Linked DNA regions of Homo sapiens. The protein of the gene in region 4 interacts with the protein of the main gene of each other region in a biochemical or structural test. Each region holds a gene or a part of one and is shown on either strand. Other genes may lie near its edges. The genes, in order: KAT2B, STAT1, CREB1 and CREBBP.

Region 1 (7,875 bases), on a different chromosome or scaffold from region 4:
GTTTCTTTTCTTTTTTCTTTTTTTTTTTTCTTTTTCTATTCTCTGGGGTGTGGCACGTCACCCTGGCTGACTTAGCTCCCTTCTTTTTTGGTTTCGTTTGTGAAGTTTAAAGGCCAGATTTATATCAGGCCTGGGACCTGTTTTTCTTTCAAAAGCCCCCCAGTGAACTACCTTATCTCTTTCTAGATCCCTCCTCATTCTCTAATCTCTCTAATCTAACTTGCCAAGGGGCCTGTGGCAAAGGTAGAGCAATCTGTCCTTTTGGGCTTGCTCATATTAAGTGCAGAAACAAGCTGAGAGAGAACCACAGATTTTGCTCTCTTACACTCCCTCGTACCCAATCAAGTCCAGTTAAATTTTTTTTTTTTTTAAAAAAAGCAAATCTGAGATAATGTCACTCTCCAGGTTAAGATTCCTGCACTCCTCAGTGCCCTCTTGGCCACGCACCCCAGCCGGTGGCCCTAGGCAACAAAGGTCTGGCTCAGTTGGCCCACCTCCAAGCTTCCACAACTGCTTTCAGTTTCTCCACTACAAGAAGCTTCACCCCACCCCACTCTGCCCTGCCAAGAGTTCTTAGCAGCCACTGACACTTCCTCCAGGAAGCCAATCCCACCCTACCAGTGCCCCAGTCTATGAACTGTCCTGCTCTGGGTCCGCAACTACTCCAAGAAAGTAGTTTTTCTGAACTTCTCTGTAATTTTGGTTCACTGCCCTCATCCCTAGGCCCCCAACACATGCATACACACACATGCACTTGTGCACACACACAATAAGTAACTCCTGAAGGACAAATTCTGTGTGTCATAGGCCCAGCACCTAGCCCAATGCCTGACACCCAGTTGGTAACCCTCTAAATATTTACTGAATGAATGGATACATAAAAATGAACACTTTCAGCCAGGCATGGTGGCCCATGCCTATAATCTCAGCACTTTGGGAAGCAAGGCGGGCAAATTGCTTGGGCTCAGGAGTTTGAGAACAGCCTGGGCAACAAGGTGAAACCCTATCTCTACAAAGAATACAAATAATAATAATAATAGTGTACTGGCGCATGCCTGTAGTCCCAGCTACTCAAGAGGCTGATGTAGGAGGATCACCTGAGCCCAGGGAGGTTGAGTCTGCAGTGAGCTACGATCATGCCACTGCACTCCAGCCTACGTGGCAGAGTGAGACCCTGTCTCAAAAAAAAAAAAAGACGTTAAAATAAATTTTCTCTTTCTCTTGTTGGGTCATGAAAGTGACCAGGAAACACTCAAATCCCACTTGGAAGTGGTGCTACATCTCACCCATGGAAATTTGAAAAGATCAAAAATATCAATGCAGGCCACATATGCTCATGGTTTTAGACAAAACCAAAACTTCAGGAAAGTTTTCAGATATTAAAGCTACAGCAGGCAGCAGGAAGTCTTTAAGAGGTGCTGGTGATGAGAACCCAATAAATAAATTTTAAAATAAAGCCAGAACAGAAACACTGAGTTGAGACAGTTCCTGCATGAGCCCACTTTGGCTGCGAAACGCCAAGGCCACCAAGTAATTGACCTTGCTCTTTTTTTTCATAGGTTTTTGTGGAACAGGTGGTGTTTGATTACATAAGTTCTTTAATGGTGATTTGTGAGATTTTGGTGTAGTCATCACCCAAGCAGTATGCCCTGTACCCATGACCTTGTTCTTAATTCTGTACATAGCTCGCCCTTCTGCCTACTACAGTCGGTGTCCTGTTCTCATTCGTCTAATGCCCTTCATGATCAACTCCTGGGCTTGCACCTTTCTTAGAAGCACACTCCCCACTTCATCTTTTTTGCATTCCTTCTTCAGAAATAACCACATAGCATTATTATTTGTTTCTGTCTTTTCTGCTAAAATCAAAGGGGACAAATAATATATTGTCCAGGTCTGAATTGGAATGTGGTCTGTGGACTAGCATAGCATCACTTGGGAGTTTGTCAGAAATGCAAACTCTCAGCTTCCACCTCAGACCACCTGATTCATAATCAGCATTTTAACCAGCTTCCCCAGGAGATTCCCATGCACATTAAAGTTTGAGGAGCACTGGGCTAGATCCTACATTCACTCAACAAATATTTATTGAACCAGTGTAGGATACAGAGGTGCTTAACATAAACCTGAGCATATGGTGTGGAAAAAGAGCAAGCATAGACATTCCATTGTGACTGAGAAGCTCCTGCAAGTACCAAGAAGAGTATAACCTAGATGTTCTAGTAGAATAAATTATAGTTATGTCAAAATTCAGAAGTGGTCACTGCAGCTTGGTTGTGACAATCGGGAATCTGGAATCTGGGAACTTGACCCTCTTTACAGCAGGCAGGAAGAATACAGGGAGGTGTGAGTGTGTGTGAGTGTGTCTCTTCCCTGCCTCAGCCACAGGCCGCAGGAGCTGACAAGGCCAAGTCCCCGCCCCCCTCAGCTGTCACCCTGTCAAAACAAAGCCGCTGCTGACAGCGCAGGGCCAGCCTGCCCCGCGGCCTCGGGCAATCCTCCCACCTCGGGAACACAGCCTCCACATCTGGATCTGCAGCTGGAGGTGACAGGGTGCCTAAACTGGCATGGAGAGTGGGTAGCAAGAAATGGGTGTCCTCAAACTGAGCAGTAGCGCCCGCCGCGCTGGGCTGTCACTTTGCCAAATCCTGTTTACACCTCGAGCAGCTGGGACAGCGTTTTAACTAAACAAGTAATAATACAATAATGACAGGGCTGTCACCGCGCGCGGCAGTGCCTCCGCCCCCAGCCGAGGGCGCCAGGCACCACAAGACCCTCGCCTCGGACTCTGCCCACCTTCCCACCCCGCGCTTTCCTCCCCTTCGCTTTCCCAAAGCGCCAGGAGTCCGGGAGTCTTCTCCACCCCCACTCCTTGCACCCAGTTCCTCCCAGTGGGACACAGGAAGGGATCGATTGCAGAAGGGACCACTCAGTCCCCCAAAAGATTTTTCCTTGCCCCTGGGTCACCCGCCACATGGAGAGCACCGCTCCACTCCCGGGAAAGTGACTCCAGCGAGCTCCTACAGAGCAACAAAACCCCAAGGTAGCCCGGGAGCTCGGATGCCGAAGCTACTCCTTTCAAGCGGAAGGAATGAAGGGCTCTCCGTCTTAGTGATCCCCCTTCTTCAAACCCAGCAGGACTCTTATCCAAGAAGAAGCTAATTGGGCGCGGGCGACAAGAGCACTTCCGCGGTGCAGCGGCCCCAGGCGGGAGGCGAGAGGCAGGAGGCGGGAGGCGGAGGTGGAAGCGGGAGGGGGAGGGGGGTCCCGCGGGCTGGGCCCCTAGCACCCATCCGCGGTCCGAGAGCGGCGAGCGCGTACCTTGCAGGCGGAGTACACTCCGAGTTTCTCCAGTTTCTTGGCCCGCGGAGCGGAGCGTAGTTGCGCTTTCTTCACGGCGATTCGGGCCGAGCCACCGCCTCCCGGTCCTTCGGCCGTGCCCGCTGCAGCCACTGCCGTCGCCGGACCGCAGGCGCCCGAGCCCCCGGCGGCAGCGGCGCAGGGGGAGCCCTGCGGGGGCGCGGGCGGAAGCGCCGCAGGCTGCGGGGGCAGCGCCCCGGGCCCGGCCCCTGCCCCGGCTCCTGCCCCGCAGCCGCCCGGCCCGGCCCCGCCAGCCTCGGACATGCCGCCCCGGAGCACGGCAGGAGGCGCCGAGTGTCAGGCGCCGCCGCCGCCGCCAGGGTCTCCCTCTCGGGCTCTGGTAGTCGGGAGAGCGAGACCCTCCCCCCACGCCCTCCCGCCCCCTTCGCCCACCCCCCTCCCCGCCCCCGCCCTCCCCCTAGCGCGCCGCTCGCCCGGCTCGCTCTGGCCGGGCCCCGCGCGCTGATGGTGGTGGCGGCGGCGGCAGCGGCGGCAGCTGCTCCCCCAGGAGGGAGGGGACTAGCGGCTCCGCTGCCGCTGCCGCCGCCGCCACAGCACACGCCCTCCCTTGGTTCTCCTGCCCGGGACTCTGCTCCGCGCCCTGGCTGCGGACATGTTCCTCGGGACTGCGGACTAGGTGTGCGTGCCGGCGGCTGCCAGCCTCACGGTGTCTGCCAGCGCTGGGAGGCCCCCCACGGCCTCTTTTCCGCTGCCCGCGGGGTTTGCACCCCCCACCCCAGTGCTTCGACACCTACCGCTCGCCCGCCAGGGGGCGAGGCCAATCCCTGGGTGTGGGTGAGGGTGGGGACGAGGGTGGGGGTAGGGGCCTGGAGCCCAGGCACCTGCTGGCCACCTCCCCCCTCCGCGGCCCCCCATCCGACCCCCGCACGCCTGCACCAGTGGGAGGGGGCAGCCTCTCAATCATTTGTCCTTTCACTCTCTTCCACCCTGTCTCTGACAGAGAGACAACTTCCTCCACCCTAGCGGGAGCCAGAGGAAAAAAAATATATTTTTGAAAAGTACCCGTCCATGCTAATCTTTTTCTTTGTTGCTAATTCACCAAAATAAAGACGTGATGTTCTCCCTTTCTCTTTTTAAATACTTTCTGTCAAACTATTTTTTAATATAATTAACACTTTCTTCCCATAGCAATTTCTGGGTCAAATCTGCCGGAGGAGGGGAAAAAAACTTACTATTCTCTGTAATTTTTGTTTGAAAGTGCTGGTTGCTAAAAGAAAGATTGTCTAAAAAGCATTGTCAAAAACTATGCAGTGGAAAAAGTTTGAATACAAAAAGTTTGTTAACAGGATTCGTTTCTGGGTGGTGGTTCTATAACGTTACGTAGTTTTCAAAATTGTGCCACCGCGTGCGTATTAACCAGGAAAAAGATATAAGCATAATTCAAAAGAATAAATATCGATTTTGGCCTCAAACTTTAAAAAGAAAAAAAAAACCCTCAACTCAGTGTTTCCAACTCTTGTTGAAAACTGTTGTTTTCACTGTTGATGACTGTGGAGCATACAAGTCAGTGCTGCGTTTGAAAGTGGTGTACCGTTGATCGCCTTCTTAAGCAGGTTTTAAAAGCCCAGGGCTTTTTCTCAGGACCCTTCAGAAGTGCCCTACTTTTTGTTATATGCAATGTGGGTCATAATGTGCTTATTATCAGATTTTATGCATGCTGTATAGCTCTCAGGCCAGACGCTTTAAGGGGTGTGCTTTTCGTGGGAAACATTCCCCTTCTTCTTTTTCCAGATTCTCTGTGTTATTTTGACTTGTAATGCAGGTTAATATATAAACATTGGGAGGTGGGGGAGTTTGTAGATCTAAACAGTGATATTAGCTTAGACAGGGCAAAAGGCAATATTCTCTCCCAACTTGAGTCCAGTCTTGAGGGGATGAAATGGCAGATTCTTATCAGGTTCCATTCAGGACAATTAATTTCAGTGCTTCCTTTCTTAGCTTGACGTGCTTCACGTTACCAGTGTTACTCTCTCCTGGCTCTGCTGAGATGTTTCGCAGATTTTTGCCATTCTCCGCAAAGCAGGGTGAGAGTCTTAAAGGCTGTGCTTCTCTGATCAACCTCTAACATGGATTTAACAGATACTAATAAGAGCTTGGGTTCCACCTTGCAGGCATTTGTCAAACTGATGGAATGATCCACTTGAGATCTGTACATTTCACTGGATATAAATGTTGCCTCAAAAATTTTTAAAAAAAGAAAAATCACAAGCATTGAACTCTAATGGTGCTCTTTGTACTTTGAGATACATCAAAAATAAGATGTATGGATGCCTCCATGCATGGGTAAAGGGTGGATGAACAGAGATATGATAAAGCAAATAGGGGTCCATATAATAGAGTCTAGGTAATGGGCACAGTGCGCAATTCTTTCAACTTTTCTGTATGTTTGAAAATTTTCACAGTGACAATTGGGGGAGGGAACCCAGATTTAACATTAAGTCACCTATCAACTCCTCCTCCCAAGCGTCCCTCAGAATTCAGGAGGCAGACAATTTCCAGGATGTTTTGAAGCAGAAGTAGCCAATCTCCTTTCAATCCACTCTGAAAACCATCACTGTCTGAGTGGCGAATGGCTTGTGCCATTAACTGAACATTATTTTTCATTATTTCCCTGCTCAGAGTACCCAGATGACATACTGCCTTAGGCTGAAGGCCCGTGGTTTCAAGACCTATTCAAAGTGTGTTATGAGCACCAGGCAAGGAAATTTCAAGGGCAAAGGATTCAGGAGGCTTATTGCTTTTCCATAATTAGGTTGTTGTAAGCATTCAGTGTGCTCTTTCTGTGCACACAGTACTTTTAAGAAATAACTACCAAGAAAATAAAAGGCAATGTTTTCATTTACAAAGTATTTACCACTTACTGAGGTAAAGAAGCTACATTCAGAAAATAAAAGCTTGGAGAGTGGGCATGGTAGAGGCAGGCTGACCACTGGAGGTTACTTGTGGTATATTCACACAACAGAATATTTTATACCTGTTATACACAATGACCTTTATAAAAATATAATAACATAGATCTCTAAGAAACACTGTTGAATAAATCTCAGTGCAGCATAATACCATTTATGTTAAAAACAAACTCACATTGACATATAAGCACAATTTTGTATATGTTCAATAAATGCATGGGAAATTCAAAAGTAAGGGAAAGATTTAAAAAGGTACATAGCAATAAAATAAAATTTCAACTTCAGAACACGAGATTATATAACAAGAAGTTGATAAGGTCCACCCCTTCCCATTCTCCCTGGTGCTGCAGTATACTTCAGCCAAACTCAGGAAATGCTTTCCTACCTCAGGGCCTTTGCATTTGCTGTACTATGTGGATACCCTCCACCAAACAGCATGGCTAACCCTATTCATCTGGTATTCCTTGCTCAGAGATGCCTTCCTAAAAAAGGCAAGTTTTGTGGCCATCTATTGTTATATCATCTAGCAGAGTTTCTTGCCATATTCCTTCCTACCAAGGCTATACAGCTTCTGTAATGTACCAGTAACCCTGAATCCCACAGATGGATTGAAATTATCCCCAGTAAAGGCACAGACTGTAAGGGTACAGATCAAGTGGTCAAAGTGCAGGTTTGGCCCAGTACATGGACCATGACTGACATTCTTCCCAGACACCTGCTTTTAGAAACAGCAGTTGGATATGAGTGTAAAATAAAGAGACATGTCAATGCCTAAGTGGGGCTCCTTGGGCCAACCTTCCTCTGAGGGAAGTGGCTATAATTACTGAACATTTATTTTAAATTAAATAAAATAAATCCTCCTAGGAAAAAAGTTTTGAAAATAATAAATGAATCCTAGGATGAGGAAACATAAAATCCCCTTCCCTAGTTTTCAAGCATTTATGAATTAAATCATTTCCAGTGTGAATCTTAACCATGCCCCAAATACCATTAGTGCTTTCTTTTTTTTTTGAGACAGAGCCTCGCTTTGTCGCCTGGGCTGGAGTGCAGTGGCGCTATCTCGGCTCACTGCAACCTCCATCTCCTGGGTTCAAGCGATTCTCCTGCCTCAGCCTCCCGAGTAGCTGGAATTACAGGCGCCCACCATCACGCCCAGCTGATTTTTTATATTTTTGGTAGAGATAGGATTTCACCATGTTGGCCAGGCTGGTCTCGAACCCCTGACCTCGTGATTCACCCGCCTTGGCCTCCTAAAGTGTTGAGATTACAGGCGTGAGCCACCATGCCCAGCGCCATTAGTGCTATTTTATTCAACCTTTTTTTTTTTCTTTTTGAGGCAGGGTCTAGCTCTGTCACCCAAGCTGGAGTGCTGTGTTATGATCAAGGCACACTGCAGCCTCGACCTCCTGGGCTCAAGTAATCCTCCTACCTGAGCCTCCCAAGTAGCTGGGACTACAGACATGTGCCACCACACTCGGCTACTTTTTTTTTTTTTTCCAATTTTTATTAGAAACAAGGTCTCAATATGTTGCCCAGACTGGTCTCTCACTCCTGGCCTCAGCAGTCTTCCTGCCTGGGCCTCCCAAAG
Region 2 (7,846 bases), on a different chromosome or scaffold from region 4:
TGTCCTGCCAGACCTCTGGGGAAGGAGTCTGGATTTTCAAGTAGGGCATGGAAGAGTGTGTATGCATACTTGTAGCCGAGCACATGTATGCAGGCATGAGGTCACGCCTACTCCACAAATGTCCTTCCAAAGGAGTGTGAGGAAATGTCTGGCCTATAAAGCTAGTTATCCTCATATATACCAGTAGAAACGGACCCAAGCCCAGCCCCTTGGCACTCCTGCTGAAGCAATTTGATTTTTCAGTTCAGTTTTATTTTACCTGAGTGGAAAAATCTGTGGCTGTCTCCCTCCCTGCTTGGTAACTAATAAGGATCTACCTAAAGCAGATATGCTGGACCGTCAGGCAATGGGAGCTGCAACGCCTCTTATTAGCCAAGCGAACCCAGGTAACTTACTCCCCTATCAACAAGGTGTGTGTGTGTGTGTTTAGTAGACAGGAACTTGCTCTGTCATCCAGGTTGGAGCGCAGTGGCAGTGGAGCGCAGTTCACTGCAGCCTCCAACCCCTGGACTAGAGCAATCCTCCCACCTCAGCCTCCCAAGGAGCTCAGACTGCAAGTGATATGGTTTGGCTCTATGCCCCCACCCAAATCTTACCTCGAATTGTAATATAATTCCCATGTGTTAAGGGCGGGACCAGTGGAGGTAACTGAATCATGGGGGCAGTCTCCCCCATGCTGTTCTCGTGATAATGAGTGAGCCTCATGACATCTGATGGTTTTATAAGCCACTGGCATTTCCCCTGCTTGCATCTATTCTCTCTCCTGCTGCCCCGTGAAGAGATGCCTTCTGCCATGCAGAACTGTGAGTCAATTAAACCTCTTCACTTTATAAATTACCTAGTCTCGGGCAGTTCTTTATAGCAGCATGAGAACAGACTAATACAATAAACACGAGCCAAGAAGCCTGGCTAATTTTTAAATTTTCTGTAGAGACAGCCTCTCGTTATGTTTCTGAGGCTGGTCTCAAACACCTGACCTCAGGCAATCCTTCCACCTCAGCCTCCCAAAGTGCTGGGATTACAGGCGTGAGCTTCCGCACCCTGCCACAGTTGGTTCTTAAGGCTGGTTGAGCTAGTACATATGTAGCACCTGGCACAGAAGAGGTGAATTAATAAGCTCATGTTTGGGCTGGCCAGGTGGCTCACGCCTGTAATCCCAGCACTTTCGGAGGCCAAGGTGGGCGGATTGCCTGAGCTCCGGAGTTCAAGACCAGCCTGGGCAACATGGTGAAACCTTGTCTCTACTAAAATACAAAAAAAAATTAGCAGGGCATGGTGGTGTGCACCTGTAGTCCCAACTACTCGTGAGGCTGAGGCAGGGGAATTGCTTGAACCCAGGAGGCGGAGGTTGCAGTGAGCTGAGATCGCGCCACTGTACTCCAGCCTGGGAGACAGAGAGAGACTCTGTCTCTAAAAAAAAAAAACAATGAATAAATAAGCTCATGTTCACAAATCTGGAGTCAGTCTCATCTACTCACAAAACCTGTTACCAACTCAGGGAGTGGCATGGCCATCTCCCAGTCACTGAGCTCAAATCTCAGATTTAGGGTTGATTCCTTCCACTCCATCCCAAGACCTGCTCCTTCCTGTCTCCAACATTCTACCTTCCCAGTCCAGCCTCTGCTGCCCACAGATTGGACCACATCAATCTCCTGTGCAAAAATCCTATGATCTGTCCATTCCTAGGCAGATTTCCACCCCACCCCATCTTCATCCATCAACAAAGCAACCCAGTCACCAAATCATTTACTGTTTTTCAACTGTGCCCAACATTTCTGCTTTGCTCCAGCTACTCGCCCTTGGAAACAGCCTCTCCACAAATTTTTGCGTCTCTAAATCCTATAGCATTCAAAGCTATGTACAAAAGCCCCTTCTTTCATAAAGTTGTCTGAGACTTACTCACAATTAAGCTTTCTTTGACTTGCGTCTCACTGAATTCTGTACCTCTATTAGAGCATCGGTTCCAGTTTTCCTTGTAAAGCTCTGTGATGCCTCCAGAGTCCCCGGCGGGGGAAGGTGGGTGGGGAGGGGGTAGAGTAGTGGGGTATTTTGCTTTTTAACATCTTATGGACCTTGGACAGTGCCCTGCATATACTATGTGCTCGAAACAGTTTGTTGAATTGAAATTATGTATATTTCAGACGGAATTAGAAAGTAAAAAGCAAACCATATTATGATCTCACAAGTGTGAGTCCAGCATCCTCATTAAGCAATGGTTGCACAATGGACTGTGCTGGAGGCTCAAGTCCTGTTTCTGTTCTATGAAAATAACTCCTTATCTATACAAACAACATTCAAAGCACAATCAACCACACCTCTGCATACCTACCACAGAACTCTTCAGTACCGGCCAGAAATTTTTTTAAGACTATATTATTTTGGGGTGGGGGGTCTGCAAAAACTAAACATCACTTTTAAACTCTAGGAAGACATTAAGCCCTTCCATCTTTGAACATAGAAACATAATTAAGATTCCGAAGTCATGTACTCATTCATCTGATTCCATGAACATTTACTGACCTGCCACCTTGTGCCCCAACAAGGGCCTGGGGATTCAACCAAAGGAGCAGCTACGCACAGCACGTTAGGTGCCAAGACTGTCGAGGTTATATACACAGAGTGCGAACGTTAACCTAGACAGCTCTCGAGGATGGCATACAGCAAATGAAACTTTCTGCGAAAAGAAGAAAACGTGACTGATGGAAAGGGGTGGAAACGGGAGAAAGTGACGGTAAATGGGAAGGTGCAGTGCCTTCTAGAGGAAAATTATATTTCACAAGTCCTCTTCACTGCCAGAGCACGACTGGCAAGGACAATCGTGCTGAGCAGTGCCATCTCCGAGAACAGGTGGCACTGCTCGCACTTGGAATACTCAGGACGCGTTCTTCCTCTGGGATCACTATTCGCGGGTCAGCACAGACGGCCCGTCCTCGCCCGGCGTCCAACTGCACGGCCCGAGGACTCTGTCCCTGCGCGTCCCACCCCCGGCACCCGGAACCTCACGGCCACTCACTCTGCGCGCAGGATCCGGAAGGGCTAGGCGGGGGCGCGGCGGTGCAGCCTCTCCCGAGCGCGCTGGGTCGCCTCTGCTCGGTCTGGGGTCTGCCAGGCGCGATCCCCCCGGTGCAGCCGAGCCCCTCCGCAGACTCTGCGCAGGAAAGCGAAACTACCCGGCAGGAGAAAAGGCAGCGCTGGCGCCCGGCCCCCTTCCGCCCCCACCAATCACCGGGCGGCTCCGCGCTCAGCCAATTAGACGCGGCTGTTCCGTGGGCGCCACCGCCTCCCTCTGCGGGCCGCTGCTCCGCCCACGCGCTGGGGTATTTCCGCCGGCTTCCGGCGGGGGCCGCCGGCTGGGTGAGCTGCAGCCCAGTCCCGTGTTGCCACGCTGGGAACTGGCGTTCTGTTTACATATCTTAGAGAACGATCAGAAGGACGTGCTGTGTTTGCAGAAGCCCAAACTTGGAGGTCTCTGTAGTAGTTTCATCGCCGAGAATCCAGGCAGAGGACAGATTTGGCGACGTCGTCATTCTAGAAGCTCCCTTTAGCAACTGACCTCCGTGTTGCTAAACCCAGGGAACGCTTTTCTGTTTTTCTCACTTTACTTGACAGCTCGGAAGCATGGGGCAGAGTTGACGCCTTTGTTCTTGAAACACGTTTCTTCCTTGGTCATGATGATAACACATCCTTCTTGCTTTTTCCTGCCTCTGGCATTCTTTCTACATTGCCTCCACCTCCACTATCAAACCATTATATGTTAAGGTTGTCAGGGTCCAGACATTCGTCAGCTTCTTTACCTGGGCTTCTCCTAAACGCTGTGCTGTGATGACCTCACCCACAGCTTCAGTTTCCTTCTAGATGGAGGAGTCTTAAATGCTTATCCCGTCCACACCTCTCCTCTGGGCTTCACACCTACAACTCCCACTTGCCTCTCCACTTGTATGTGCAGTGAGCTCTACAAACTATGTTCAGAACCAAACATCTTTCTCCTCAAACCTGCTCTTTTTCTAGAAATGGCACATGACAGATACCTAGGATTCATAGTTGACATTGCCTTCTCCCTCACCTCGCAACACCTGATCCTCAAATCTTAATTGATTCTTCCTCCTAAATATTTCCCAAGTCTCATTTACTCTGCTCCATCTCTTCTGCTGCCTCCTTCTGCAGTAGATTCCCGAATGGCTGCCTCACTTCAGCCCTTATCTACCTTTTAATCCATTCTCCATACAAGAGTTTGAGTGTTTTTTTTTTTAATTGAAAAGCAGATCATGTCATTTGCCAACCTGAAAATCCTTCCATGGCTTTTCTTTGCTCTTATAAAATTCAGTTTCTTAATACATACTATAAAGCCCTGGTTGCCCGATCTCTTTGTCCAACCCCATAATGTGCCACTCTGCTTTGCTTACTTCAGCATTTAGTTCTTCAAATAAACCACACTCTCCAAACTCAGGGACTTCTCACCCTGAGTTTGGAAAACCCCTTGAGCCAACATCTGCTTCACCCAACTCTTCGCTGGCTAACTCATCTTTTAGATCTTAGTTTAAAAATCTCAGCTTAAATGTCACTTCTCCAGGTAGGCATTGCTGAAGCCAGACAAACTAAATCTTTTTGGACTATATGCTCATAAAATCAATTAGTTCCTTCAAGTAGACGGGATTTGAGTCAAGCCTTGAATAATTAGGCACTTTGGGGTAGGAGAAGGATCTGAATAATTTCCCATGGATATGCCTATATGTGTGTGTATGAGTTTTTTTTCTTTGCACATCTATTTGTTCTTCTTGTCACAAATGCACCCTCACAAAGCAAGTTAGCAGTGAAATTAGACTTCTCTGCCAAGAGATGCCACGGCACCAAAAGTGTCCCTTCTGCTCTTACTCACCCAAGAACCAAGACAATGTTTTACTGTTCTCTGAAAAAAGCTGTATTAATCCATTTTTAACGCTGCTAATAAAGACCTGAGACTGGGCAATTTACAAAATAAAGAGGTTTAATGGACTTACAGTTCCACATGGCTGGGGAGGCCTCACAATCATGGCGGGAGGCAAGGAGGAACAAGTCACATCTTTCATTGATGGCGGCAGGCAAAGAGCTTGTGCAGGGAAACTCCCATTTTTAAAATGATCGGATCCTCGAGACTCATTCACTATCACAAAAACAGCGCAGGAAAGTCTCGCCCCCATAATTTAATCACCTCCCACCAGTTTCCTCCCATGACAGGTGGGAATTGTGGGAGTTATCATTCAAGATGAGATTTGGGTGGGGACACAGCCAAACTATATCAAAAGTTGACTCTAGGAAGGGTAGATTACATGTTAAAAATTTTTTTTCTGGTACTATAAAACTTGCACAGATATTAGCTTCAATATTGATGAAGGAATGGAATAATCCTAACATCTGCAAATAGGATTATTTGGCACTCCAAATCCCAATTTGGATCATCAAGATCTGTGGATGCTTCCTTCCCTACCCCCCTTTATTTTAGCATCCACAGCAATACCTACCATAAGCCTTCATCACTTGAGAATTGGAATGCTATGCTAATCTCTAGGTATACTACCTTTTTCTTGTCTCTTTCTCCTTCACTATATTTGCCAAATTCAATTCCTTAAAATACTGCATTGATATAGTCATTCCCTGCTCAAAAGCCTTAACAACTCTCCTTGCACATATGATAAACACAAATGTTGTCTGCTAGTCTGGATCCTCCACAAAATGTTTCTTTCCTTCTTTCCAGCCTTTTCTATCATTGTCGCATTTCCCAACTAACCTCGTCTAGCTCCAGCACTCCCCCCATGCTTTTAATTTCCTGATTTCTGCCCCTTTGTACATACTGAATGGCAAGTCTTGCTCCTCACTCTCTTCACTTACCAAATTCTTATTCACCTGTTAAAGCCCAGCCCAAATACTATATTCTCTTTCTAGAACCACCTCAACCTGTAGCAATTAATCTGGGGTCTCTGAATGACCAAATAATATATGTGTCTCTATTTATTTGGACAATAACTATACACTCTCTAATATTATGGTTTTTGAAGTGTCCAATCCTTATGCCTCCAAGATTCAATATTCCTGAAGGATAAACTATTTATATTTTCTTACTGTATAACATATTGACTGCTTCAAAAAGCAATCAAACCAAAGCCAAACAAAAACCTAGAAATCCAGAATTTGACAGATACAAATGTGTGACGGTTGCCTTATAACAGTCAGCTTGGAAAGCTATATCTATATATCAACAATGTCAGATTTGCAAAAGACACAAAACTAGAAAAAACAGCTAACACTATGTCTGTAGATTGTACTATTTTCAAATCTCTTCTGTCCCTTCCCACTGCTTGCCATGGTTCACTAAGGGTGGAGTATACCTCTCTGTGTGCTGTAACTCTGACCTTGGCTATGTGACTTGTTCTGGATAAAGGAATATGAACAGTTGTGATGTATATACCATCTGTCCTGAAACTGCGTGTTCTTTGTAATCAACTTGTTCTTGTGTGCTCCTTCCCTCTGCTAGGAGACAGCATGCCTCAGGTTCCCACGCTAAATCAAAATTCTAAATAATCTAAATATTCTAACGGACTGCTGCTGGTCTGAAACCAACTGGATACTATGTATGTATGTATATATGTATGTATGTATGTATTGATGACAGAGTCTCGCTCTGTCGCCCAGGCTGGAGTGCATTGGTGCAATCTCGGCTCACTGCAACCACCGCCTCCTGAGTTCAAGCGATTCTCATTCTTTAGCCTCCCAAGTAGCTGGGATTATAGGCCTACATCACCAAACCCGTCAAATTTTTTGTATTTTTAGTAGAGTCAGGGTTTTGCCATGTTGGCCAGACTGGTCTCACACTCCCGGCCTCAGGTGATCTGTCTGCCTTGACCTCCCAAAGTGCTGGGATTACAGGTGTCAACCACTGTGCCTGGCCTCAACTGGATAACTTTTTTTTTTTTTGAGACCAAGTGTCACTCTGTCGCCCAGGCTGGAGTGCAGTGGCGCGATCTTGGCTCACTGCAACCTCCCCCTCCTAGGTTCAAACGATTCTCCTCCCTCAGCCTCCCATCAACTGGACAACATTTAAAACAATAAATGCAACTACTTGTATTGGATTTAAAAGAGCAACAAATGACAGGGTACACTGTCACCAGCAATCAATCAGAAGCAACAGGTAAGGTGAAATTTCCTATTTGCCACCCCTGAACTGGTGTACAGACAAAGGAGAGTCAAGGACAGTGAGGAATCCAGAAAATACTATTATATGATGAGTAACTGATGTGAAGTCACCGGAGTAACTCATAAGTTCACATGATGTTACAGTAGAAAGACTTAAGAACTACTCCACACTTCCCATTTGGAGGAACTGTATTTTGCTTGGAGAAAAGACAGTATCATTCCTATTCTTCACTCACTGTTTCTTTTATACCCAAATCATCCAGTTCTATTTACTTAGTTTATCTGCCTTGTTGCACAAAGCATTTTAAAGCAACTTATAGCAGAAATATCTACAATAACTAGATAAAGAATACAGTACAGCCTGCAAACCAGGGCAAAAAGATATCAGTTACGTAGTTTTCATTATATGAAACTGAAACTAAGAAGGCTCTCCTGATCAATGATTTTCAATAATGGCCAGATTATTCCCTGCTCTGTTATTTCCCCACCTTGCAGCAGATGTGACATTGTGACATTTAGAGTCTAGGCCTCAAGAGGCCTTACACACTCCGCTCTCAAAACCCTGCCCAGCCTCCATGAGAAGTCCGGCTAGCTTGCAGGAGCATGAGAGACCACACAGACCACAGTTGAATCACAGTAGTTGTTCAAGTTTAGACCTCAGATTTATGAGAGAACCCAG
Region 3 (8,273 bases), on a different chromosome or scaffold from region 4:
AAGACATACTTGGTTTTACTATAACCCCATAACCATACTGTATCCAAACAAACAAAACCAAATGTCTTAGAATGAGAGAGAAATAAAGCTACTTCTCTATGAAGAACCCAAAATTTCTAATAATGAGACCTAATCAAGAATATGAGTTTCAGAAAGTAGAAAAAGGTGCCATTTTTATGGATCAGGTGTCTAAGTTTCTTCAGGCTCTTTATGTAAACAAAAAAAAAATCATTCAAAACAGGTAACACTTAAGTTTTAAATTCCCAAAGAAGTGTTCTTTTAACATTCTTCAAGCAAACTCTGTCAAGTAATTTATTAGCTTTCTAAATGTAGGTGTTCATGAAAAAAAAAAAAAGATTCAAGCAGATCCAGCTGTAATTTTTATCCATGGCTGGAACAGTGCAGAAGTACAATTTAGTAACATGTTCCAGGTGAATGTTCAAGTATTAATGAATACAAGTTTGAAGTTTCACCTGGAATTGCTAAGAATCACAAATTATGAATGTATAAATAATAAAACAGGCCGGGCGCGGTGGCTCACACCTGTAATCCCAGCTACTCGGGGGGCTGGGGCAGGAGAATTGCTTGAACCCGGGAGGCGGAGCTTGCAGTGAGTGAGCCGAGACCAGCCCACTGCACTCCAGCCTGGGCAATAAGGGCCAAACTCCGTCTCAAAAAAACAAATAAATAAAAATAAAAATAAAAAATACAATTTAAAATATCTCTCGGGCAAGACTAAAGAAAGAACTTATCAGTAAACTTTTTTTTTTTTGAGATGGGGTCTCGCTGTCACCAGGCTGGAGGGCAGTGGCGCGATCTCGGCTCACTGCAATCTCCACCTCCTGGGCTCAAGAGATTCTCCTGCCTCAGCTACCCTAGTAGCTGGGATTACAAGCACGCGCCACGACACCCAGCTAATTTTTGTATTTTTAGTAGAGACGGGGTTTCACCATGTTAGCCAGGATGGTCTCGATCTCTTGACCTCGTGAGCCGCCTGCCTCGGCTTCCCAAAGTGCTGGGATTACAGATGTGAGCCACCGCACTCGGCCATCAGTGAACAATTTTTTAAAAATCTCACAAATGAAGAGTCATATATTCTTTCTTTTTTTTTTTTTTCTTTGAGACGGAGTCTTGCTGTGTCGCCCAGGCTGAAGTGCATGGCACGATCTCAATTCACTGCAACCCCAGCCCCCCGAGTAGCTGGGATTACAGGCGCGTGCCACCACACCCGGCTAATTTTTGTATTTTTAGTAGAGATGGGGTTTCATCATGTTGGCCAGGCTGGTCTTGCACTCCTGACCTCAAGTGATCCGCCCGCCTCGACCCCCCAAGTGCTGGGATTACAGGCCTCAGCCACCGCGCCCGACTTATATTCTTAACAAGAAAAAAAATTCTACTCTACTGATAGTGGCTTGCGGAACAACATAAAGGAAAAATGGTAAGCTACCATTATCAATACTATAATTTTTTCAGTGCTCGGAAATAAAATCATTTCCCCAATCTTTATAGAAAACCTGCCTTTATTGCCTCTTCTTAATTTTCTTGGAAATGACAAATTGCCAATGTGGTCTTTTAAAGAGAAGCAATACAGCAAAGCACGTTTTGGAAAAGTGACTAGAATACAGAAAAATAAGACAGTGCTTCTGCTGCCAATCAATATTTGTTCTTAACCAGAAGGTTTGTACGTATCAATCACAATGCAATCATACAGTGACAGACAAGTATTTTTAAAACAAACTTGTTCGTCTTTTGCACCACCTAAAATAACTGTTCGGGGCTTTACTTTTAAATCACGAAATGAGCCATAAATGTAAAAGATTTCAATAGGCAGCAATCAAAAGTATCTTCTACTAAACCTTCAGAAGTTAGACGCCAGCTGAGGTTAGAATTATAACTTGAGATGGTATTACAAACTTAAATAGGTCATACCGCACGTCCTTCAAAAACTGTCTTTTAATTTTTAATGTGTCAATGACTTTTCTGCTGTCCTCTTTTCCCAACAGGCGAAGAAAAAATACAGCTTGTGGCTTAAATTGTCAATCTCAAGACGGGGGTTACCTACTGCATGAGACAAATAATGGATACTTTAATGTCTATTTTTAGTAGTAGTATTAAATCAATCTCTCATTAAAGTTCACACAGAAATTCGTGGGAAATATGGTAGGGGGAGTGGGACGGAGGGTGAGGGGAGATCCAGATGACCCAAACGCGGTTGGCAAGGTTGCACCCCGCGAAATGATGTAAAACAAGAGTACATCGGCTGATACTCGTTCCAACGAAGTGTTTCAGAATGATAGATCTCAAGTGATGATTACCTTATTAAAAAGGGTTAAAACCGAAACTGTTTTCAAACACCAGCTTCCCTTTTATAAGATCCCAACAGTTTAAAAAGTTATTATAAATGTTTTTCTTAGCACCCTTTCTCCCAAAAAGCATGCATTTCCATGACTGACTTTAAAAAAAAAAAAAAAGCAAAGGGGTGAGGGAGTCAAAAATTCCCCCCAAAAGCACAAGCTCTCATCTCTCAACTAAGCAACACAGGGCAGAAAGCAGCATTTCCTCAACGGTGTAGGAGCGGGGGGGAAAGGGCACGAATAAAATACAGCACGAGAGGAAACCTTGGGTTTCGAACTTTATTGCACAAAGAGTGGAGAGAAGAGTAGGTCAGACGTTGCAGCTCTTCCCCTTGCGAAGCGGGCATGGCAGGCACCGAAGCCACCGGGAAGGCAGCAGGCACCTTCACCTCCTCTGCCCTCAACTGTCGCCTTCTTCCTCCTCCATCCCCCACCGGCACCTAGGCGGCGGCTGCCCCGGAGGCCCGGCCGGGTCGGGCCGGGGGCGAGGCGGGCGGCGGGGGCCGGACGAGCGAGCGGCGCGGGGGGCAGCGCCGGGCCGAGCGGGCGGCCTCCCCCGGGGCGGCTCCGGGTTCCCGGCTCCGCGCCCGGCCCGGCGGCGGCGGCGGGAACGCGGGCGCCAGCTCGCCGCGGCCGGCCGCCCGCACACACCCCCGGCCGCCGGCTCCCACCCCGCCCGCCGCCCGCCGCCCGCCGCCCCCCGCCATGAGCGCCGCCGCTGGCTGCAGGCAGAGTCGCTGCCGCCCCGGCCGCCGCTGGCTCCAGTCCGCCGCCATTATTCTTTGTTCGCTGCGAGCGGCGGCGATGTTGTGGGGCTCGGGCGGAGGCTCCATCTTTACCGCGGCCCCTCCTGCGAGGGGAAGGCCCCAAGCGCGGGTGTCCGGCGCCTCCCCGTCCCCCCTCCGTCCCCCCGGCTCTCTCTGGCTCCTGCCTCCTCCTCCTGCTCCTCTTACCGGTGGTACAAGCTCCTCCGTCACTGCTTTCGTTCACGGCCCGGATCTCGCTGGAGTTTTATTCTCTCCCCCACGTAACACACCGCGTCAAACTACACCTCCGCCGCGTCACTCACCAACACTCCGCTTCTCCCAGCCGCCCGGGCCACAGGCAGCAGCAGCCGCCGCCGACTGAGGAGCCGCAGCCAGGGAGCCAGCCAGCGCCGCCCAGTGCCGAGTGCGCAGCGGCCGCGCACGGAAACAGCCGAGCTAGGCCCGGAGCAGCTCGAGCGGCCCCGCCCCCGCGCTGGGGACGGAACTTGCCGAAGACCTTCGGGTTTCTTCGGGCGACGAGAAGGGGTTCCGCGGGGAGAGGGAAGGCGAAGGCGGGCTGAGCCCGGCGCCGGGAGGAGTGGTCTAAACTCCACCGCGGCTTTCGCATCGGTAAAGCCGGCAGCGGAAATTTGAAGGAGGAAGCGGGGTTTGTGTGTGGCCCAGTGGGGGAATTCCCGAGGGGTGTCGGCGACTTGGTGGAAACCCCCGCTCAGGCCTGCCCCTGCGGCGGTGAGCGGCGGGCTAGAAGGCGGCTGCGGCTGCCCTGGCTCTGCTCTTGACCGCCGCCAGCCCCGGGAACTTTCCGACGCCGCCGGGAGACGGGGGACGGGCAGCCCGGGCTGGGACGCGGCCGGACCGCTGGAGCCGTGCGGGCTGGGGAAGAAGGTCTGCTGCGCCTCTGCCAACGTCCCGGGGCCTGGGACCCGGGGGCGTCGTGGGACCCCCGTGGGGACGGGTTTTCCTTTCCGAGACTCCGCGGAGAAACCTGGCGGCCGCCAGCGGAGCATGCTTTTCCGGGGGGCGCTGGCCCCGATACTGTGGCACCTTGCGGGGCTCTGCCCGGACCATGGCTGACGTCGACGGCCCTCGGAGGCCTCCAAGCCACACAACCTGCCCGGACCCCTGGAAATATGCCCCATCCTACCTCCCCGCCTTTCTCCAGACAACATCCTGTGTCGCTTTCTTTCCTCAGCCTGTTTTCTACAGCAGGGATTCGCACCCACTGCACCCTAAACCCAGCAGGGGGACTTCCGTGGCTGGAAACTACTGAATTGTTCTTTCAGAGGTCTCTCAGGACGGCACCACTAGGTCCCCATTCTCCTTGATAGTGAACTCTGCAGCCCTCTCCTTGGGGTTTCAAGTCTTTTTTTTTTTTTTTTTTTTTTTAATGAGACGGAGTCTAGCCCTTGTCGCCCAGGCTGGAGTGCAGTGGCACGATCTCGGCTCACTGCAACCTCCGCCTCCCGGTTTCGAGCGATTCTCCTGCCTCAGCCTCCCTAGTAGCTGGGATTACAGGCACCTGCCACCACACCTGGCTAATTTTTGTGTTGTTAGTAGAGACGGGGTTTCACCATGTTGGCCAGGCTGGTATGGAACTCCTGACCTCAGGTAATCCACCCGCCTCGGCCTCCTAAAGTGGTGGGGTTACACGTATGAGCCACCGCGCCCGGCCTCAAGTCTTAATCATTCTTTTTCTGTCCTTTAAAGGAGACGTGTCTTTAGGAAGCAGAGAGGGTTCGATTCTGGACTCCGCCCATGACTCACTTCTCTTGTAAAGAAAGAGTTGTCCTTCCTGGTACTCCAGGTACCCTACTGTTTTCTTATGGACTTTGCCCTTAACGAGTCTCCTTTCCTTCTGTTACTCTCAACCTTTCCTTCTCTACCGGCTCTTTCTTACTGGTATTTAAACATGCTTAAGTCTTTCAATTCTTTAAAAAGATTTCTCTTCTCCCTAAATTGCTCTCCAACAACTGCAGCTGTCTCTTACCCCATGGACAGTCTTTCATGTCCCACCTCCCAGCCCTCTCCAGTGTCCCCACCGCTCACCTGAAGTGGCTCTGAATTGTCCACAGACAAGCTTCATGACTGTAAATGCAGCGGATCATTTTCAGTCCTCATTTTACAAGCCCTCATCCCAGTATTTGACGCGATTGACCACAGTTGCTTCCAAATACCCTCTTCCCTCTGGTCTTATGTCCCAGGTTTCCTCCCTACCTGAGTTTGCTCTTTAACAACCAGCTCCTCCTTGATCTACCTCTTACACATTGGAATCATGCTGAGCTGAACCCTGGCCCTCTTACTGAGTCTCCCCATACACTTTCCTAGGTGGTCTTATGCTCTCCCAGCAGCATCAAATACCCTCTGTCAAAGACTCTTCAATCCATAACTCAAGCCTAGATCTTGCTCTGGAATCCTACATTCATAGTTCCCAGCATACTGCCTTTGGTACACTTTCATTTGGATGACTTAGGGCATTTCAAACTCAACCCGTATATCATAATTCCTTCAAAACGCTCCTCCCATAGTCCCTGGTTCAGTAAAGGGTATCTTAACATCTACCCAGTTCATGCCAGAAACCTAGCACACCTCCAACACACAGCAGAATCACCTACATCTGTCTGCTCCCTGGAAAATTGGATTTGTGACCTCTCTCTGTTCCCATGACCATTTTTTCATTCCCATTCTAGTCTAAACCACTGTTGCCTCTTGCTTGAAGTCCCACAGTAACCCATTCAGGTCCTCCAAAACTGCTCTTGCCTCGTTCCAATACATTTGCCATACTGCTGCCAGAGTAATTTTTTAAATATAAATCTGATCATTGACCTGCTTAAATTCCTCCAGTGGTCTCCCTTTGCTTACCACACATTGTCTAAGCTCCATTATCTGTACTTGTCTTTCTCTCCAGCCTCTCCATCTGTCCCCCTAGCTGCCTGCACTCCTGCCATAGTATTTTAATTTTTTCCAGGCTCTCCTCTTTTTATTCCCTACTGTAGGCTCTCACTTCAGGGCATTTACACATGCCCTTCCCTTCCCCTGGAATTTTTTTCTGTCACCCATTCCTCCTACTTAACTGTAACTTATCACTTTCTTTTCCAATTCCTACTTCTCATTATTTGTTTAGTGTCCATGTAATTGTGCAGGTAAGGACCACGTCTGTCTTGTTCACTACCAGCTTTTCCTCTCCCTAGCAACAGCACAATGTCTAGAATATAGTGGTACTTGTTAGGTATTTATCGAATAAATAGTGAATTTCTGAGTGGTCCCGGGCAAAGTTTTCTCAACATTTGAATTCAAATCCTGGCTCTCAGTGAGTTCAGGTTGCCGTAGTAAAGTACCATATAGACTGGTGGCTTATAAACAACAGAAATGTATTTCTCATAGCTCTGGAGGCTGGATATCTGAAATCAGGCTGCCAACATGGTCAGGTTCTGGTGAAGGCCCTCTTCAGGGTTGTAGATGGCTGTTTTTTCCCTTTACCTCACAATGCAGAAAGAGAGCAAGAGCTCTCGGGTTGCTTTTATAAGGCACTAATCCCATTCACAAGGGGTTTACCTCCCAAAGGCCTCATCTCCTAATACCATCACATTGAGGGTGAAGATTTCAAAAATACGAATTTGCAGGAGACAGGGGTGGGGGTGAATTCATTGCACTGGCTCAGCCACTTATTAGCTAATGACTTTGGGCAAATTGTTCACTCTTGTGCCTCAGTTTTCCCATCTGTAAAATAAAGATGATAATAGCACCTCATAGTGTTATTGTAATGATTACGTGACATAATACATGTGAAGTATACTTGGAACAATGTTAGGAAAAATGTTGCCTATTACTAGCTTTTACTTGGATAGCTTATCCTCGTGTCAAATACGTTTTCAAAATTGAGTTCATCTTCCTGCTCTTCTTACCGTGGCTCTATACATGATATCAAAAAACTTTGGAATTATTTACTCATAACCTATAATTATCACCCACCAAATATGGTGAGTTTTTATTTAAAAATGTCCTCATATTCATTCTTCCTTTTTATATACACTAACCTTCATTTAGACTCTATTATCATTGATTATTTTGCTAACTTCCTAGGTGTCTTCTAACTGGAGGCTAGCTTTCCCTATTCATTTGGGCCCTTACTGTCAGACCAGTGGGCCTCAAACAATTATTAAAACATATATTCTTCTTGACTTCTGCTCAAATGACCTCCGTTCCCACCTAACTTTGTTCATTCATTTATTCAATCATCCATTCATTCCAATGCAAGTTATTTTACTACTAACATTTTGGGTATACTCTAGATTTTCAGCCTCTCTACTTTGACATTTCTCTCTTGGATATTCTCTCTTCGGATATACTCTAGCATTTTCAATCTCACTATCTGACATTTCTCCTTTCAGCATCCAAGTTTTGTCTCTGGGATTTGGAAGCCACCTGCATTTTAAAAGAAATTTTTTCCAGGATCAGTCTCTCGCTGTGTTGCTCAGGCTGAAGTGCAGTGGCTGTACACAGGAGCGGTCATCGCATGTGACAGCCCCACACCCCTGGGCTCAAGTGACTCTCTTGCCCTCAGCCTCCTGAGTAGCTGGGACTACAGGTGATCCCCCATTTTTGACTCAGTTTTCCAATTGCAAAATGTGGTCAATATCAGGGAGATGAAAGAGGAGCACACATGGATGTAACTTGATAGAGTATAAGAAAAGTATCTTGAAAGAGGTCCAGAATAGGGGGAAGGTCCCATAAGATGATTATAAAAGGCTTCAAAGAGAAAGTAGTATTTGAGAGCTTTTCTATAATCACAACTTCCTCTTCCTGTTATTTTTTGCTCATTTCTGCTGTCGAATATAATTTTCACCCTCACTGTGAGCTCAAGTTCCATGAACCCTGCCTGCCCTAGTTCATCACCTCCTGTGATTTGCTTTCCTACCTAACCCCAAGACCATGGTGACCTATTTCATTTATTCTAAAAATATCTGTGGAGCACCTCCTTTGTGCCAGGCATTCTTCTAGAGACTGGGGAAATTATGAATAAAACAGATTGTCTTTCCTCTCAAATGTCCTAACATTTTCAACTTCTCTACTTGGGAGGTAAACCCCTTGTGAATGGGATTAGTGCCTTAAAGCAAGGAGGGGGATATATTATGGGTTTCTTTCTTATTTGGTA
Region 4 (7,898 bases):
CAGCCCCCTTCCTTCCGACTTCCTCTGACCTGGGAGTCACATCAGCCCTTGCCACAGCCTGTCCAACTCCTGTACTCAAACTATGAAGCCAGACAGTGAAAGGCTGAGGGAGGCCGGTCCCTCCCAAAGCGCCGACAGCTGCCGTGAAGTGCCTCTGGGAAGGCCTGAGCTATCCGCAGTGCACCAGTGGGACTTCCCCAACGCGCAAGCCCAAGTTACTGAAAACTGCTCGCACCTGGCAACCTGATGGAGCCCTAGGACCAGGTACCATGACTGTGTTCACAAAAAGATATGAAAACTGCCGCATTCAGAAACTAGAAAGAGGACAAAGGAGACTGGAGAAAGGTGGAAAGCGGAAGAAGTGTGTGAAGGTGGGGAGGGAAGAAAGGCCCTCGCTCTGCTGAGGACCCGCTCTGCCCCGCTACAGACACCACAGCAAGTGAGGAGGCTCCGGGTTGGCAGGTGATGGTGACTGTCCTGGGAGGGGGATGGTGGGATCTGTCACCTGCCTGCCCTGCACAGCCTGACTCGGCCCATGCAAGGGACACCCACGTCATTTCACAGGGGGGTCAAAATTCCTAGAGGGGAGTGAGGGAGCATGACCGGGGGGTCCTTCAGGAACAAGTGGCCAGAGGGGCCCAAGCTGCCAACAGGACAGCGGGTGTTTCCAGCCATTTAGCAAGACTAGAACTGGGCACAGACAGGCCAGACTTCCCAGCAGAGCCTCCCTCTGGCCGTCCCCAGGGTCAGGCCTGTGGCTGTGGCTACACAGAGCAGGTTTAGGAAACACACACACAGCAACGCCTTCTGCCTTGTGACGCTGTCCTAGTTCTGGAGGAGTCAGTGCAGCCACCATCAGGTACAGACACCAACCCGGGCACCCATGCAAAGGGACAGGATGCTTCGTCAGACCCCAGGCCGGCTGTGGGGGTGGGGGTGGGGGCAGGGCCTACCTCGCACACAGTGCAGTGCCAGCGCGTCTCCACGTGGTGCTTGCACTCGTTGCAGGTGTAGACAAAGCGGTCCTGGCCCTGGGTGTGCAGCTCCACCAGCATGCAGAGCGTGGACCACTTGGAGCGGCGCAAGGAGGAGAACTCCCAGTGCTTGTCTCTGGCGAGGGTGAGGAAGGCGTCGCGCCCATCCATGAGGTCACAGCTGAGCAGGGGGTCGGGGTCGACGATGGGGGGCAGGGTGTTGATGACAGGCCCAGCGTGCAGGTGGATCACGAAGAAGACCTGCAGGAGAGGAGGGGCTTTAGTCCCACACAAGGGACATGGCACCTCCAGTGGTGAGCTCAGGGCAGGCGCAGCCACCCAGCCTGCAGAATAGGCAGGTGGCTGAGCCTGATGGCCCTGATGCCTTGGGATGGAACAAAATTGGTGACACGTTGCATGATGTCACCCAACTGGTCCACTTGGTTTCCTGGGGGCCACTTCCCTCCCACCACAGACCTGCACACGGGCCCACGCCCGCCAGCTGCGAGTCTTTCCCTCCTCCCGGCCAGAGGCACGGCTGCAGCACCGCAGCCCACGCCTACCTCCTTGTGCTTCTCCATGGTGGCATACAGCTTCTGGGACAGGTCATTGGACACGTTGGGCATGCTGGGCTTCTTCTTGTTGGCGCGGCTGATGCTGCTTTTGTTCTTGTTGGTTTTCTTGTTGTTCTTCTTCTTGGCATTCTTGCTGTCGCCCTGACTGCCCTGCAACAACACGCAAGGCTGTGAGACCAGGCAAGTGCCCCTCCACACTTGGCACGGACGCCCAGCTCCCAGGCCGTGGGCATCAGGAAGCTCAGGCCAAAGTAGGTCACCACCAGGCAGACCCCATACGTGAACGGCTACAGGTGGCTGTAGGTGCTGCAGCCTTCGGGACAGAGCAGGGCCTGTCCTCGGCCAGGCTGGTGTCATTATCAGCTTTATGCCACGCTGCCTCTAAAGGGGAAAAGAGACCCAGAGTGCGAGTTCAGAAATTAACAAATGAGGGCAGTGGGGGCTGTTTCCACTGTGCCACAACCAGATGCGGAAGATTCCACGTCACAACTGTGGTCAGCAGCTGTCTGCCTTGAGGAAGGCTCTACACACCCGAGAAAGCATGAGAGCTTCCAGGAGACAGGAAAGCTGCTGATGGGAAAAGCAGCTGCCCCATCAAGAGCAGGGACTCTGAGGCCCCTGCGGGGTCCACTCAAGGCCCACGGAGAGCAGGCTGGCTCCCTGCTGGGGCCATCAGTGCTGCGCCTGACTGGCTGAAGGTGGGCTTGCTCTCAGCCCACAGGCTCCTCCTCTGGAAAGAACGCAGGATTACCACTCACTTACACTTTAACAGAGAGCTTTATTTTTTTTGAGAGACGGAGTTTTGCTCTTGTTGCCAGGCTGGAGTGCAGTGGTGTCATCTTGGGTTCAAGTGATTCTCCTGCCTCAGCCTCCTGGGTAGCTGGGATTATAGGCACCCGCCACCATGCCCGGCTACCTATCATTTTTTTTGAGACAGAGTCTCGCTCTTGTCACCCAAGCTGAAGTGCAATAACGCGATCTCGGCTCACTGCAACCTCTGCCTCCAAGGTTCAAGCGATTCTCCTGCCTGAACCTCCCTAGTAGCTGAGATTATAGGTGCTGCCACCACACCCAGCTAATTTTTGTATTTTTAGTAGAGATGGGGTTTCACCATGTTGGTCAGGCTGGCCTTGAACTCCGGACCTCGGGTGATCCGCCCGCCTGAGCCTCCCAAAGTGCTGAGATTACAGGCATGAGCCACCGTGCCCAGCCAGAGAGTTTCATTTTTAACAAGATGAGAGAGACTCTTGGTGTTCAAAGAGAGGGGTCAGTCCAGAGAGAATTCAACAATCCAGCCGGGCGGGGTGGCTCACACCTGTAATCCCAGCACTTTGGAAGGCCAAGGCAGGCGGATCTCGAGGTCAGGAAATCAAGACCAACCTGGCTAACACGGTGAAACTCCGTCTCTACTAAAAACACAAAAAATTAGCCAGGCGTGGTGGCGGGTGCCTGCAGTCCCACCTACTCGGGAGGCTGAGGCAGGAGAATGGTGTGAACCCGGGAGGCGGAGCTTGCAGTGAGCTGAGATGGCGCCACTGCACTCCAGCCTGGGCGACAGAGCGAGACTCCATCTCAAAAAAAAAAAAAAAAAATTCCCACCCCACCGACAAGCAGCCCGAGGAGCCCAAATATCACGTGGGTCCTCCGCAGGATTCAGAGACAGAAAAGGGACGTCAGGGGAAAACTGAGGAAATTGGAACGAAGTGTAGACTTAACAATAATGCATCAACATCAACAAATGGCTCACCGTGGCAGCAAATGTGCCACACTAAGGTAAGACATTAGTAACAGGAGAAACTGCGTGCTGCAATATACTGGAACTCTGTGCTCAATTTTTGTGTCAGCCTTAAAACAAAGGAAGCCTATTTTTTTTGAGATGGAGTCTCGCTCTGTCACCAGGCTGGAGTGCAGTGGCACAATCTTGGCTCACTGCAATCTGTGCCTCCCGGGTTCAAGTGATTCTCCTGCCTCAGCCTCCCAAGTAGCTGGGACTACAGGCGTGCGCCACCACACCTGGCTAATTTTTGTATTTTTAGTAGAGACGGGGTTTCACCATGTTGGCCAAGCTGGTCTCAAACTCCTGACCTCAAGTGATCCACCTGCCTTGGCCTCTCAAAGTGCTGGGATTACAGGCGTGAGCCACCACGCCCGGCCTGGAAGTCTATTTTTACAAAATTATAAAATAAATATGTTCATGAAATTAAGAAAATATAGACAAGTAATTTTAAAAAGTTTTGTTTTTCTGGTCTTCCCGAGCAGCAGTGTTCTGTGTTCTGGAGCTTTCCCTGGGCACATTTGTCTCCGTGTTTGCGACATTCCTCACGAAGCTGGGACTGCACACAGGGAGCTGGTTCCGTTTCTCGCCCCACCTGACACTATCGCGAGCCTTTCCCCATTTCCCAGAATTGACAGCATGATGCAGAGCAGAGCTAATAGCAAAGCAGTGCTCCACCCCACGCACCAGCCCTCACTAAGGCTGACCCCCAGAGCGAGCTCCTGGGGTGTTGCTGACGAAGGCATGTCCCTGCCCATTGTTGTCCATGAACCAAACACACAAGGGACAGCAGGTCTACATGCCGACACCTCAGCATCCCGCCTCCTAACACATGCATGTCCCCGGTGCACAGGGAAGGCTGCCCCAGCAGGAGCCCCTATCAGGCCTGTCTTCTGGACAACCCCACTGCTGCCATGCCACAGGCAGGTGCCCCCTCCTGGGGTGGAACTCAGCTGCGCAAAGCCTGTCTCGGACGCGGTAACCTCCCGTGTCACCCTTAGGAGATGGAACTCAAGCATTAACTCACCAGACACCAGTGAGACCAGCTACACTCCAGCGGGAGCAAGTCCGAAGACAACAGGCCAGGAGCTCTGCTTAGGAGCCACCTAGGGCGTAAACCCACGCCACCCCCTGCCCGCGCCTCCTCTGTCCTGCGAATGACACTCTGGGGCGCCGTCCAGCAGGTGGCTGCCTCTCAACCACCTGTGCAGTGAGCACGAGTGTGTGTGGCGGAAGCGGCCCAGGCCCCACGCTCCGCCTACAGCCCATCCGGCACCCACCTCACAGACGTGCTCTCATATGGGACAGGCACCAGAGTGGCAGTATGTCCCCAGCCGGCTCCCGGCTGCCTCACCCATGGCAGCAGCCCACGCAAGAGCCACCTCCATTCACCGCTTTTCCTCACTGGTCACAATCGCCTGTCCCAAGTTCTGGGGCTGCAGCCTTCAACGTTCGTCATCGCTCTCCCTGCACCTACAGCTACAGCCCACACCCACGCCACCATCATCTCTTCCCCAGACAGCCGCACAAACCCGCACACAGCGCGCCTCCTCCCACCGCCTGGCGGGTCCTCTTCCAGCACCTTCCTGTGGTGGGCGGGTCTGGCCCACACGCCACCTCCCCAAGGCTCCTTCCCCTTCAGAGCTCTGCCACGCTCAGAGCACACCATGCTTGGGTCTGGGTTCTTTTTGTTTCACATCCTACCAGGACACAGCCACTCCCTTGGGGGCGGAGATGGGGTTTTGTTTGTTCTGAAACGGAGTCTCGCACTGTCTCCTGGGCTGGAGTGCAACGGCGCAATCTAGGCTCACTGCAACCTCCGCCTCCCGGGTTCAAGCGATTCTCCTGCCTCAACCTCCCTCGTAGCTGGGATTACAGGTGCCCCCTCCCACAACCGGCTAAATTTTTGTATTTTTAGTAGAGATGGGGTTTCACTGTGTTAGCCAGGCTGGTCTCCCTTTCCTGACCTTGTGATCCGCCTGCCTCGGCCTCCCAAAGTGCGGGGTTACAGGTGTGAGCCACCGCGCCTGGCCAGGGATGGGGTTTTGTTTGGCTCAGTCTGCACTGCCTGGCACTCAGGGGCAGCGCCAAGGAGAGAGGGCAGCAGGGCATGAGCATCATGTGCAGAGTGGCCACCAAACACGGAATAAGGCCTGGCAACCCTGTGCCTCCTCGACTCACTTTTTACATCAGCGGGTTGTGTCCTGACTGCCCCATGTCCCATTTTCTGTCTTCCTCTCTTCCCTCTCCGAGTCTAAGTGGACCCCCAGCTCCCCAGAGCATCCACTGTGCAGAGAGTGCAGAGCCCACACTGCTGCCCACCAACGCCCTGTGCTGCAGGTGGTGTCGACGTGCATGTGTGAACGGAGACACCACCACAGGAAGGACCTAACAGTCGACACGCGCCTCCCAGCCTGCCACCCTGCAGCTCCAGCGGGACACGTGGGCAATGGAGCTCAGAGAAGGGTCTGTACCTCAGTGGTTTCACTGGCTGCAGTGCTCTCTTCCTTTTTCCTCTCCTCTTCTTCTTGTTCTAGTTCCTTAATGCTCTCTTCTAACACATTGGGCCAGAAATCACCTTCAAAATAGGGCAGTTCCTTGGCACTGGTGAGCCTGTCTTCAGTTGCTTGTTTGAAAATATCCTGAGTGGGCAAAGCACAACAGTGAGATGAGGGCCATGCACGCGTGCCCCCCACCATGGTGCGACAGACCCCCACGCAAGCGTGCCCCTCACCATGGTGTGGCAGAGTCCCATGCATGTGTGCCCCCCCACCACAGTGCAGCAGACCCCCACACATGTGCACCCCCCACCACAGTGCTGGAGCCCCTATGTGTGCAACAGTGATGCACAGGCCCCAATGCCCACTGATGGAAACAGCTCCAACTGTGCTGCTCTCAGACGGCCAGGGGAAAGCCTCAATCAGCTGAAGAAAATGCTTCTAAGTTCTCACTTTAGGCTTTTATTTTTCTGCTTTCTAATCCTCATAAGTGAAGGTAATTAACAAGTATGCGAATGCAAGAAAAAGGCACACAAATATCCTCCCCTCAGTTGTGACAAAAGCCACCACCTTCCTTCAGCGCCGGGTACCTTGTAGTCATGGATGATCCGCTCTGCAAACGCCTTGTCCAGCATCTTTTTGTACCACTCCTGCAGTCGTTTTGGCTTGGGTATTTTTTGATCAGGTGGGTGGCAATGGAAGATGTAATCATCTCCTTCACTTGGAGGACAGGCCCAGATGTGCCCTGTCACATACCTGCAGGACCCACGCACACACGTCAGATGAACGTGCCAGTGAAATCGGCCCTGCCTTTAAGGAGTTATAGCAGAGGAGCAAGGACTAAAGCCAGGACAGAAGTAACCAGAGAGAGAGAATGAATGCCCACAAAGCTGGGTGTGGTGGGGGCAAGGCTCGAACTTTATCCTGAGCAAATGCAAGCCTGCAAATTAGCCCTGCAACACTTCTCCCTTGGGGTGCACACACAGGGCAGGGCCGAGGCTGCAAAAGAAACCTGAGGCCTCATTAAAGAACCAGGGAATATGATGGCTCATCAAGGCAATGCCATCCCCTTCCTCCTGTGCACTGTAAAGGCAGTTCGGTTGACTATTTTTCTCCAAGGGTCAATGTCAACATAAACCTCATTCATTCTGTTCAAGACACTTTGATCAAATGCCCCTATCCTTTTCAAGTTTCAGAAGGGAATGGGGCAGGTCTAGAGTACAGAAACCAAGGGCTAGAGAAGGAAGCCAGACCCAAGACAGCATACGCTGCAGGGTTCCGTTTACACAAAGGATTCACAAAAGACAAATTCAGAGAGACAAAGTAGATTAGTGGTCGCCTGGGGCAGGGAAGGTTTAACAGCAAGGGGCAGGAGGAACATTTTTTTTCTTTTTTCTTTTTTTTTTTTTGCGGGCGGGGGGCAGAGTTTCATTGTTGTTGCCCAGGGTGGAGTGCAATGGCATGATCTCGACTCAGCGCATCCTCTGTCTCCCTGGTTCGAGTGGCTCTCCTGCCCCCACCTCCTGAGGAGCTGGGATTACGCTAGGCACCCGCCACCACGCCTGGCTCATTTTTTGTATTTTTAGTACAGACAGGGTTTCACCATGTTGGTCAGGCTGGTCTTGAACTCCTGATCTCAGGTGATCCACCTGCCTTGGCCTCCCAAAGTACTAGGATTACAGACTAGGTGAGCCAATTTTTTTTTGTATTTTTCTTTTTTTCTTTTCTTTCTTTTTTCTTTTTTTGAGATGGAGTCTTGCTCTGTCGCCCAGGCTGGAGTGCAGTGGCACAATCTCAGCTCACTGCAACCCCCCGCCTCCTGGATTCAAGGAATTCTCCTGCCTCAGCCTCTTGAGTAGCTGGGATTACAGGCTCATGCTACTATGCCCGGCTAACTTTTGTATTTTTAGTAGAGACAGGGTTTCACCATGTTGGTCAGGCTGGTCTCAAACTCCTGACCTTGTGATCCGCCCGCCTCGGCCTCCCAAAGTGCTGAGATTACAGGTGTGAGCCACCGCGCCCGGCCTTTTTTTTAATTTTTAGTAGAGATGGGGTTTCACCATGTTGGTCAGGCTGG

The links.
Region 1: the proteins of CREBBP (region 4) and KAT2B form a complex in vitro, tested with the Homo sapiens proteins (4 studies listed by BioGRID).
Region 2: the proteins of CREBBP (region 4) and STAT1 form a complex in vitro, tested with the Homo sapiens proteins (5 studies listed by BioGRID, with this or other methods).
Region 3: the proteins of CREBBP (region 4) and CREB1 form a complex in vitro, tested with the Homo sapiens proteins (15 studies listed by BioGRID, with this or other methods).

Annotation. Positions count from the first base shown.
Region 1 is NC_000003.12:20,036,224-20,044,098, reverse strand, and holds the start of KAT2B (histone acetyltransferase KAT2B), read right to left. Parts: upstream 3,654-7,875; 5' UTR 3,622-3,653; coding exon 3,319-3,621; intron 1-3,318. UniProt on the Homo sapiens protein: Functions as a histone acetyltransferase (HAT) to promote transcriptional activation. Has significant histone acetyltransferase activity with core histones (H3 and H4), and also with nucleosome core particles.
Region 2 is NC_000002.12:191,011,005-191,018,850, forward strand, and holds the start of STAT1 (signal transducer and activator of transcription 1-alpha/beta), read right to left. Parts: upstream 3,168-7,846; 5' UTR 3,014-3,167; intron 2,675-3,013; 5' UTR 2,521-2,674; intron 1-2,520. UniProt on the Homo sapiens protein: Signal transducer and transcription activator that mediates cellular responses to interferons (IFNs), cytokine KITLG/SCF and other cytokines and other growth factors.
Region 3 is NC_000002.12:207,525,169-207,533,441, reverse strand, and holds the start of CREB1 (cyclic AMP-responsive element-binding protein 1), read right to left. Parts: upstream 3,481-8,273; 5' UTR 3,308-3,480; intron 1-3,307.
Region 4 is NC_000016.10:3,730,239-3,738,136, forward strand, and holds part of CREBBP (CREB-binding protein), read right to left. Parts: intron 6,578-7,898; coding exon 6,412-6,577; intron 5,966-6,411; coding exon 5,798-5,965; intron 1,700-5,797; coding exon 1,538-1,699; intron 1,236-1,537; coding exon 954-1,235; intron 1-953. UniProt on the Homo sapiens protein: Acetylates histones, giving a specific tag for transcriptional activation. Mediates acetylation of histone H3 at 'Lys-18' and 'Lys-27' (H3K18ac and H3K27ac, respectively).